2 separate regions of the Homo sapiens genome follow, and region 1 is reported to be linked to region 2. The links are microRNA targets in miRTarBase. Many come from high-throughput screens and were not tested one by one. Region 2 holds a microRNA gene; the other region holds the end of a gene's coding sequence.

Region 1 (5,133 bases), not on the chromosome of region 2:
CCAAAAAGTCACACAACCCCAAAGATACATACTAGACTTCAGATTGAGAAGAATTTACCCAACAAATATTTATGGGTGCCTAGTCTGCGATGGGTGACGTATAATTAAAAAACTGGAAAGAGAAATAAACATCTCACATCACAGGAAGGAGAGGCTGCTTCATTAAATAAGTCACTCTTTGTCCACAAAGACTTAGAGGGCTCTGGACAGTCTCTGCATCGATGTCAGCAATTTTCCAATATTTAGGTAATGGCAGTTACAGAAATCAGACAAACCCAAAGTCCCGAGACTCCCTAGCTATGCTTCGCCTGTTCAGAACATGGTACGTATTTTGCTCAACTGAACTAGGCTGTTTTTATATTTTGGGATCTATTCTCATACAAAAAAGATTGACGGGAGGAAGGTGGAACATTTTTAAAGCCATACAATTGACTCTATGGTTTCCCAGGTCTCTCTTTGGGCTTAGATTACTTAATATCTTATAATCATTTTTAAAAGTTCCAAGTTGAAGTTGGAACCACTGTCTCCAATTTAACATTCATTTAAGCCTGTAGTCCCTATAAAAGAATAAAACGTAAGATTTAGAAGAGCAGAGAAAAATAAGATCTAACCCACTGAAGACATGTGAAAGTAGTTTTCAAACAGAAAGCCATGGTTACCAATTTGTTTGAAAGCCAAGCTGAGTTTTGTCCTCTTTTCTAATCTGTTCTTTGGCATCTCTGTAGCTATGCAAACAACTCTAGAGCTTACCTGTGCCCACCCCAGCCCATGCCTCCATGCTCTCCTATCTGGGTGGCCACACCACCATCTGGTTCCTCAAAGCCTCCAACTCCTGCAGGAGCCTGCTCCGGGCTTCCATTCCTTCCCCTCCCATCCCGGCAACCAGAGCGACAGCCACTGACATCACCTGGGTGGCCCCAGCCCCTCCTAGAAACCCTGCAGAGGCTTTGCACTGCGTGAAGAAAACAAGTCACATTTCCTGCCATGGTCTTAGAAAATACACTCTTTTACCACCGGGTAGTGCCAGGTGGCCCCTGGCTCTCTCCAGCCCCTGCCTGCACCCTCCTGTTCTGGGGCTCTGGCTCTGGGCTCCCCTGATCTTCCTGAGGTTCCAGCTTATCTGCCTCAGGCTTCTCCTTCCATCTGCAAGGCTTCTCAAGATCATCACTTTCTCAAAACAGCCTACCATCTCCCAGGAACTTTATTAGACCTCCAGGTGTCCCCTGCACTTCTTTACTGTTAACAGTTACTATGTATCTGCATATGTAAATGGAACATGTGCTGCTGCCTCCTGGAGTGATGCTCCCTGGGGGCAGAGCCACGCTGTTTCAGGACAGCAGGTAAGCGCTGTGAGACCCGTCACCATCACTGAGGCAGGAGGCACCCGCAGGCTCCCATAAACATCTGCTGAATTAAACAAGAAACTAGCTTCAATTCCCAATCTCAAGTCTAGTATGTCTCTTTTGAGGTTATGTGATTTTTGGAATAAACTGGATGAAATACTGGAAATAACAAAACTATCACTTTTTGTACATCCTTTCCCTCCTCCAAGTCACTCGAATTAAATTTTGCTTAATGTTTACTAAATATAACTAAATCTTTGAAATCAGTTTTCCACTCAATAAAGGATAGAGGAAATTGTGTCCAACGGCGCACACCAGAAAATGATCAAGTGCTTGCTGGTCCGTATGACAGACCACTGTAGGGCAGTACCATTATTTCCACTGACAGCAACAGAAACACAAGGCTTGAGGAGAAAAAGGAATCTGTAATAATACTCAGACTTCCTAAGTTTTTGTATTCCCAAACATTAAAGTCCCCTTTCAAGCATTAAAATATAGTAAAAGTGAATACTATAGTTCTAATACACAAACATCTCGTTCTATCAAAAAGGTCTCCACAAGTTTCTACAACCCTAAGACACACTCCTTCCTTCATGAACGTCCTTATTTTTACAATACATGGACTACAGTCACCCTGCTGTGCAGCACATGGATCTGAAAACCTATTCCTTTTGTCTATCTGAAACTTTGCATCCTTCAACCAACAACTTCCCATCCTTTTCTCCCCCCATGAAAGCTCTAAAAATTCTCCATCCCTGCCCTGTCCCATCCCCCTGCTCACAGGCCATTAAAAGGTCCACTGGAAATAGGCAGAGGCAGGAGATGGCGCAGAGGCAGCGCTGAGCCCTGTCCACACAGAAGGTCCCGCCCGCACATGCCCAGGCCTCCCGCAGCTCCCAGGTCCTCACAATGTGACTTGTGTAGTTTTACAATCAAACACACCCTTTTACACGAGGCCGTCCCGAGTGGGTTCTTGCACTAGGACGCTTCTCACCAGGATGCCTTATGTACACCATTTACTTATTACTACGGATATTTTATTTCAAAGGGGCCACCAAGAGACAGTGTCACTGAGAAATGGCTCGAATGCCCACCTAAGCTTGCTGGGATCAAGGAAGCATCAGGAAGGCCTGGGCAGCAGAACGGCTTATGAGACTCAGACACCACCCGTGAGCTGTGTGACGAGGCACACGACACGTCCCCACAAATGAAAACCACTGCCTGACACAGAAATCATACTCAGTAAGTGTTTAATGAAGAAGAGACAGATGGAAAGAGATGGGCGAGGAAGGCTGATGTTACAAATATAAACTTTGTCAGCACTTTCAAAACAATAGCAAATACACTTAAATACATACAAAGTTTATTAAAAATAGGTTGCAACTGAAATACAGTAGAAATGGAAAACTACAGCAGTTTTGATGTTTTCTCATAGTAATGCAGTTCTGAAAAGCACTTTTACACATATTCACATTTGACCTCACTGCCCAAAGATGGCCAAATCCACTTGTGTATGGGTTTCACAACCACACATACAAATATCCCTGTATGTAGATATTTACATGTATCTGCATGTTCTCCTGTGTATTTTTCTATATATTAACAGAAAAGTAATTCATCTGCATCTCTTTAAAGAAAGTGTGGATTTAGTCACCATAAGGCTGCCAGTGTCCTCAAGATATTTGGGAGGTGCCTGCTTTTCCTAGAACTTCTGCTGCAAGCAAGCAAATCCTTCCTAAACACTCAGAACCATTCACTCTCTTACTCAAACAAGGAAATGGTAAGAGCACACTTTCAAATAAAAACCCTGATAGAGGTAAAAAAAAATATTTACACTCGCATTTTTAATGATTTATCATACAACTTTTATTAAAAGTGATTTCGAAGGCAGTAAAAAGCCCCTATACCTCTCTTTGAAAGTGTGCCTATTTTCCTAACATATGTAAGAGAACATTCTCTTTGAAAATGTGTCTATTTTCCTAACATACGTATGTGTAAGAGAACATTCTCTTTGAAAGTGTGCCTATTTTCCTAACATACGTATGTGTAAGAGAACAATATGGTACAGAAAAATCATTTGGACTCCACCAAGGGCTTTGTCAAATAGAAAATTTGCTTGTAATCACAAAGTAATTTATCATCTTAACACCAGACAATATAAAACACACTGAGGTCCGTCTCCCCAACATCAGCCACATATCCATAGCTGAAGAAATGACAGTGGTAACTAATAATTCAACAAATTAAAATTAAATAACTCTATTATAGTATAAAAATAGCTTGAACTTCCATATGAGTTATTCTTACAATATTTAAGTTACAGATGCCCTGTAACTGAATTCCTTCCTTGACGGCATACAGATGAAAATCGATTTCTTTTTCAAATTTAAAATTTCTGAGTGACAGCTGTGCTTGAGGGGTCCCTACTCATCTCCCATTCTTCTGTCATTCCCAGTCACATGAACATTGCTCCAATAAAGATATCTTCTTTTACAGACGCCTTGGAGCGAAGTATTAGTGAACTTTCCAAGGTAACTGTCATCTTTAAATTTAACAGTGATTTATTAAGTCTAACAATAATCTGGTATTTATAAAAATAAAATCCCCTAAGCTTAAATCCTCAAAATTTTCTTTCAGAATTAAAATTAATCAAATATTTAGAATTGATCAGAAGAGCTCAAATTTGCGAGGAATGAGATGGAACAGTCTCGGACGTGCGTCATCACACAGGAAGCTTTGGCCTAAGCCACTTCACGATGCAGACTAGAAGGATATTGTGGGAACAGACACCATCAGGGGACATGGGAGGAGCATGTCGTCATATGTTCCTTCCCGGGTAGAAGAGCGTGTGGTCACTACTAAACAGTGCCAACAATAGTCTGAATAGTTCAAGCTATTCTCTGCTTGACAGCTAAAATAAAGTTTCTGAAAAAAACAGAAACAGAACTTCTTTGTGCTCCTCGGTCGATGATGAGGGGAAGATGGGAGAGAAGACACATCCATTCTCTTCTCCTGCCCTTAGTTCTGTCCCCTTTGAACTCAGGACTCCAAAAAAGAAACCAACAAAAAACTTACCCTCGTGTGAGTTAGATAATTAAGAAACTAGACAGTGTTTAAATTACATAAATGGCAATCTCATGGTAAAGTAAAATAAAATTTCTTGGAATTGAAACATTTCTAAATCCCAACAATTTTAGAAACAGAAATTGTAAATCACTTAGAAATATAACCCCCTTCCTCTTTTCCTCTTCAAACTCGCACCTACAAACCCACAACTGAAAAGATTTTGGGGTAAATACAAAGTGTTCTCCTCATTTTCTTTCACTTTGTGTTCAGTTCATTCTCCAGTTCTGTTAATTTACGAGAAGCTTTCACTTTATTGGATACATCTTGACCTTGTGAAAAAAGACGCTGGCGTTCCTTGAATGTCAAGTTTTCAGGGGCCCCAGAACTTCCAGGTGAATCTGCATCTTGGCTGCAGAAGAGGGCAATATCAAAGATTACTGGACAAACTAGAAACAACCTGTCAACAATTACACACGTTTGCAAAATGGGCGATTAAAATTTTCACTCATTCTTTGTTAAATTGTGCTATAACCTTTCTTATAATCGAAATCACAGGGGCTGTATTTAAACCCATCTAGAAAAAAAGGGCAACATGTTCTCTTGGCTACAACATTAACTTTTCCCAGTCATAGTCAACTCTCAAAAAACTTGTAAGTTAGATTTTAGCAAGCAGGTGACTCTTACCAGTTAAGTGTAACCTGAGGGGTACAGTTTTAAAATACAG
Region 2 (3,000 bases):
CGTTTGTGGGAAACCAGGGCTCAGCGCGCTGGGAGGGAGTCAATTTATTCTGGAGAAAACATCTTTGTTCTGCGAGTGAAGGGGAGCCATTTCCAACAATTTAATGCTCTGTTCGCGGGCCCGGGTGCTGGGGTTGCAGCACGAGGCTTGTTCTTCGAGGCAGAGCCGCACATAATGAGGCTTCTCACTACTGCTCCCCGTCATCGTGCCAAAAACCAGAACGGTTATTTATCCATTAATCTGACATTACACCCCCTGCATTTTATCTGCTTAAATAAATTTGGTGGTTAGAGTGTGTGCCTGGCGGAGAAGCTCCCGCATTCAATTCCCTTCGCGCCACGGCGCGCAACGTTGCCATTGTAAACCGGCCTTGGAGTGGCGGGGCCGCGGTGGGCCAGCTGGGAAATGAGACGGCAGCGGGGAGGATCCCGCCTCTCCCAGCTCGTCAGAATCCAGGCCCAACGGGACGGTTCCCCAGACACTGACTTCGGGGTTCCAGCGTGCAGCACCAAGTCACGTGGGCGCCGTGGCCTTTCACCTGCAGAACAAGCCGCCCCCTTCGCCAGCACCTACAGGCAGCGAGAACAGAGGCCAAACCCCGTCCTAGACCCCACTGCCTGGGCTGGAATCCTGCTGTGCCACTCACTAGTTGTGGGACCTTGAGATGTCACCTCACCTCTGATGCCTGTTTCCCCACCTCCCTCCCCCTCGGGTTGTGAGAATTGAGTCACTATTTATAAAGTGCTTAGAACAGTGCCTGGTACATATCAAGTGCTCAATAAGAGTTGGTTTTAAAATATTAATTTTTAAAATCTAGGACAATTGTTTATGTTTGGAAGTAGGCTTTGGAGATGGGCTAGACCACTGGGTTTCCCCACCTCAACCCACTTCACTAAGTTAAGAAAAGTGGGTTTCATGGAATATTTCATTTGAACAAAGAGTGCCACTGCTTGAAAATATTTGGCTCACATTTTGCAGAGGAGCAAACAGAAAGCCAGAGAGGGGAAGGGACTTGTCCAGGAGCCTCTGCAAGTTCACAGCAGAGCTGGGAGCCGAATCCAGGCTGCCCACCTGCCGGGTCAGGTGTTTTATTGGCAGCATGAGCTCCTGGGATGTTCATTCACCTCATTTTCATTGCCAGTCACGCTGACCCACAGAAGGTACTGCTGGGCACCCTCCTCTCCCATCCCAGCAGCTGCAGTACCACCCCACGCTGGAGCTAAGAGCCCAGCCCCACCAACAGGTGAGACCCATGACCCTCAGACTTCAACACGCCCCACTCTGGAGCCTGGCCAGGCCTTTTCATTTGTCCTTCATTTGTTCTTTCCTATCATCCTCTGGTTCTCTACAACATTTCCTTGGCCCGGAAACTTGCTGGAACTTCCTGCCTGTCCTCCCTACATCTGTCTGCCCCTTGTACCCTGTACCCCTGCCCCATAGGCTGGAGACTACCCCAGAGGGAGGAATCCCACCACCACTCAGTCCCTTGGATGTGGGCCCCCCTTGGAAGCAGTTTTGCCCAGCTCAGATCCAGCCTGAGCTCACCACACTCTCTAGGAGCCCATTCCTGAACACCTCCCAGAGGCTGGCCACTCCACCTGGAGAGCAAGGTTTCCACAATCTTCTCTGGCTCAGGAGGGCCTGGCCTGATGCCCCACGCTGACTGTGGAGGTAGGTTGGGAGCGAAGTGGTGAGTCTGTAACCAGAGAGAAGAGCCATGTCCCATGCAGGAGCCGCTCTGCCCAGGCAGCTGCAGGCCCAGCCCCTGCCTCCTTCAGAGCAACAGAGAGGCAGGCATGCGGGCAGACAGACGCCCAACACAGAGACCTCCCACACGCTCGTCTGTGTCACCGCCGCCCCTTCCTGGTTGGCCCTGCAGACGAGGAAGCCCTCCAACCTGCAGCCAAATTCACTCCTTGCTGACAAGAGGCTCCTAGAGGAGAAGGGCTACTCCCCGGCCCCCAGGAAACTCTCTGAACATAGCTATCTGCCATCAAGGCCTGGATCAGCCAAGCAGGAGCTGCACTTGCCCAGCCTTTTCCTTCCTAGCCACACTTAAGCAAGACAAGTGGCATGGGCACGGAGAGGCTCCCCTGGCCACACACTGGGCAGGGACAGACCTGGGCTACTCATCCTTTCTGAGCAGCTAGCCTGGCCCAGGCCTGCAGACTGAGTGGCCCACCCTGCCCGGCCCCCCATAGGCATGAGCTCCCATACCCCCACCTCAGGCATGGTTCCATTATAACAAATTATCCTCGTTCACCTCCCACTCCACTTCTCTGACGGCTCCCTCTCTTGACTCTTGTCCTGCCTTTGTCCCATCCTTGCCCCCGACCGATGGCTGCTATTGCAAAAGTGATCCGAGTTCTGAATTTCAGCAGCATTTGATCATTTCAACTGGACCCAGCCCTGATAACCTGTGCCAGGCACTGTGCCAAGTGCTTTAAAATCTAGGACTTAATTAGGTATGACCCTTCTATTTTACAGATGAGGACACTGAGGCTTGCCCACAGGCATAGAGCTATTAAGTGGCCCAGCGTGGATTTGAATCCAGATGTGTCTGAATCCAGAGCCCCAGGTCTTACCACCAGCCCTGCCACGTGGCTGGCACACCCACAGATGTGTTCTCACCCCATGAGTAAAATCAGACACTCATTCTTGCTCTTGCAGCCATAGAGGTTGGAGGGAAGAGGGCTGAGCCCCTCAGGGGATGGTTTCTGCAAGTTCTGTTCAGGGATCTGTCTTCCTTCAGTGCCACTAACACTCACCTGTCATTGCAGGCAAGAGGAAATCAACATTTTACAGCAATAAAAGGCTGCTCCTGGTTAGGCATCAAACGAATCAATCTTCTCTGACAGTTAATTTTCATTTTGCAACTTTCCCCAGCAACAACAGCAAGTAATGACCCTGAGGATCTGCAAAGTCGCTGATCAGCAGCCCAGCCTCCCATACTCCTGACTCATCCACTGCCCTGGCTCAGCCCCTTGCCACCCATGCCCA

What was found. Region 2 holds the annotated microRNA hsa-miR-346 (UGUCUGCCCGCAUGCCUGCCUCU, at 1,787-1,809, opposite strand). A microRNA usually pairs through its seed, bases 2 to 8, with sites in the 3' UTR of a target mRNA and lowers its output. Matches are read on the target gene's strand: a 7mer-m8 pairs with bases 2 to 8, a 7mer-A1 pairs with bases 2 to 7 and ends in A, and an 8mer does both.
Region 1: the mRNA of AFDN is a reported target of hsa-miR-346. The part of its 3' UTR that is shown has no 7-base or 8-base seed match.

Annotation. Positions count from the first base shown.
Region 1 is chr6:167,969,467-167,974,599 of GRCh38, reverse strand. It overlaps AFDN (afadin, adherens junction formation factor), which reads right to left. Exons shown (of 34, transcript NM_001386888.1): 34 at 2,577-4,818. The coding sequence ends at 4,665. Among named protein-coding and RNA genes, the nearest start is that of HGC6.3, 7.8 kb to the left of the region's middle.
Region 2 is chr10:86,262,961-86,265,960 of GRCh38, forward strand. MIR346 (microRNA 346) reads right to left here and starts at 1,828; the gene lies at 1,734-1,828. The region is part of intron 2 of GRID1 (glutamate ionotropic receptor delta type subunit 1); the gene reads right to left. RefSeq lists enhancers at 1-969, 1,347-1,847.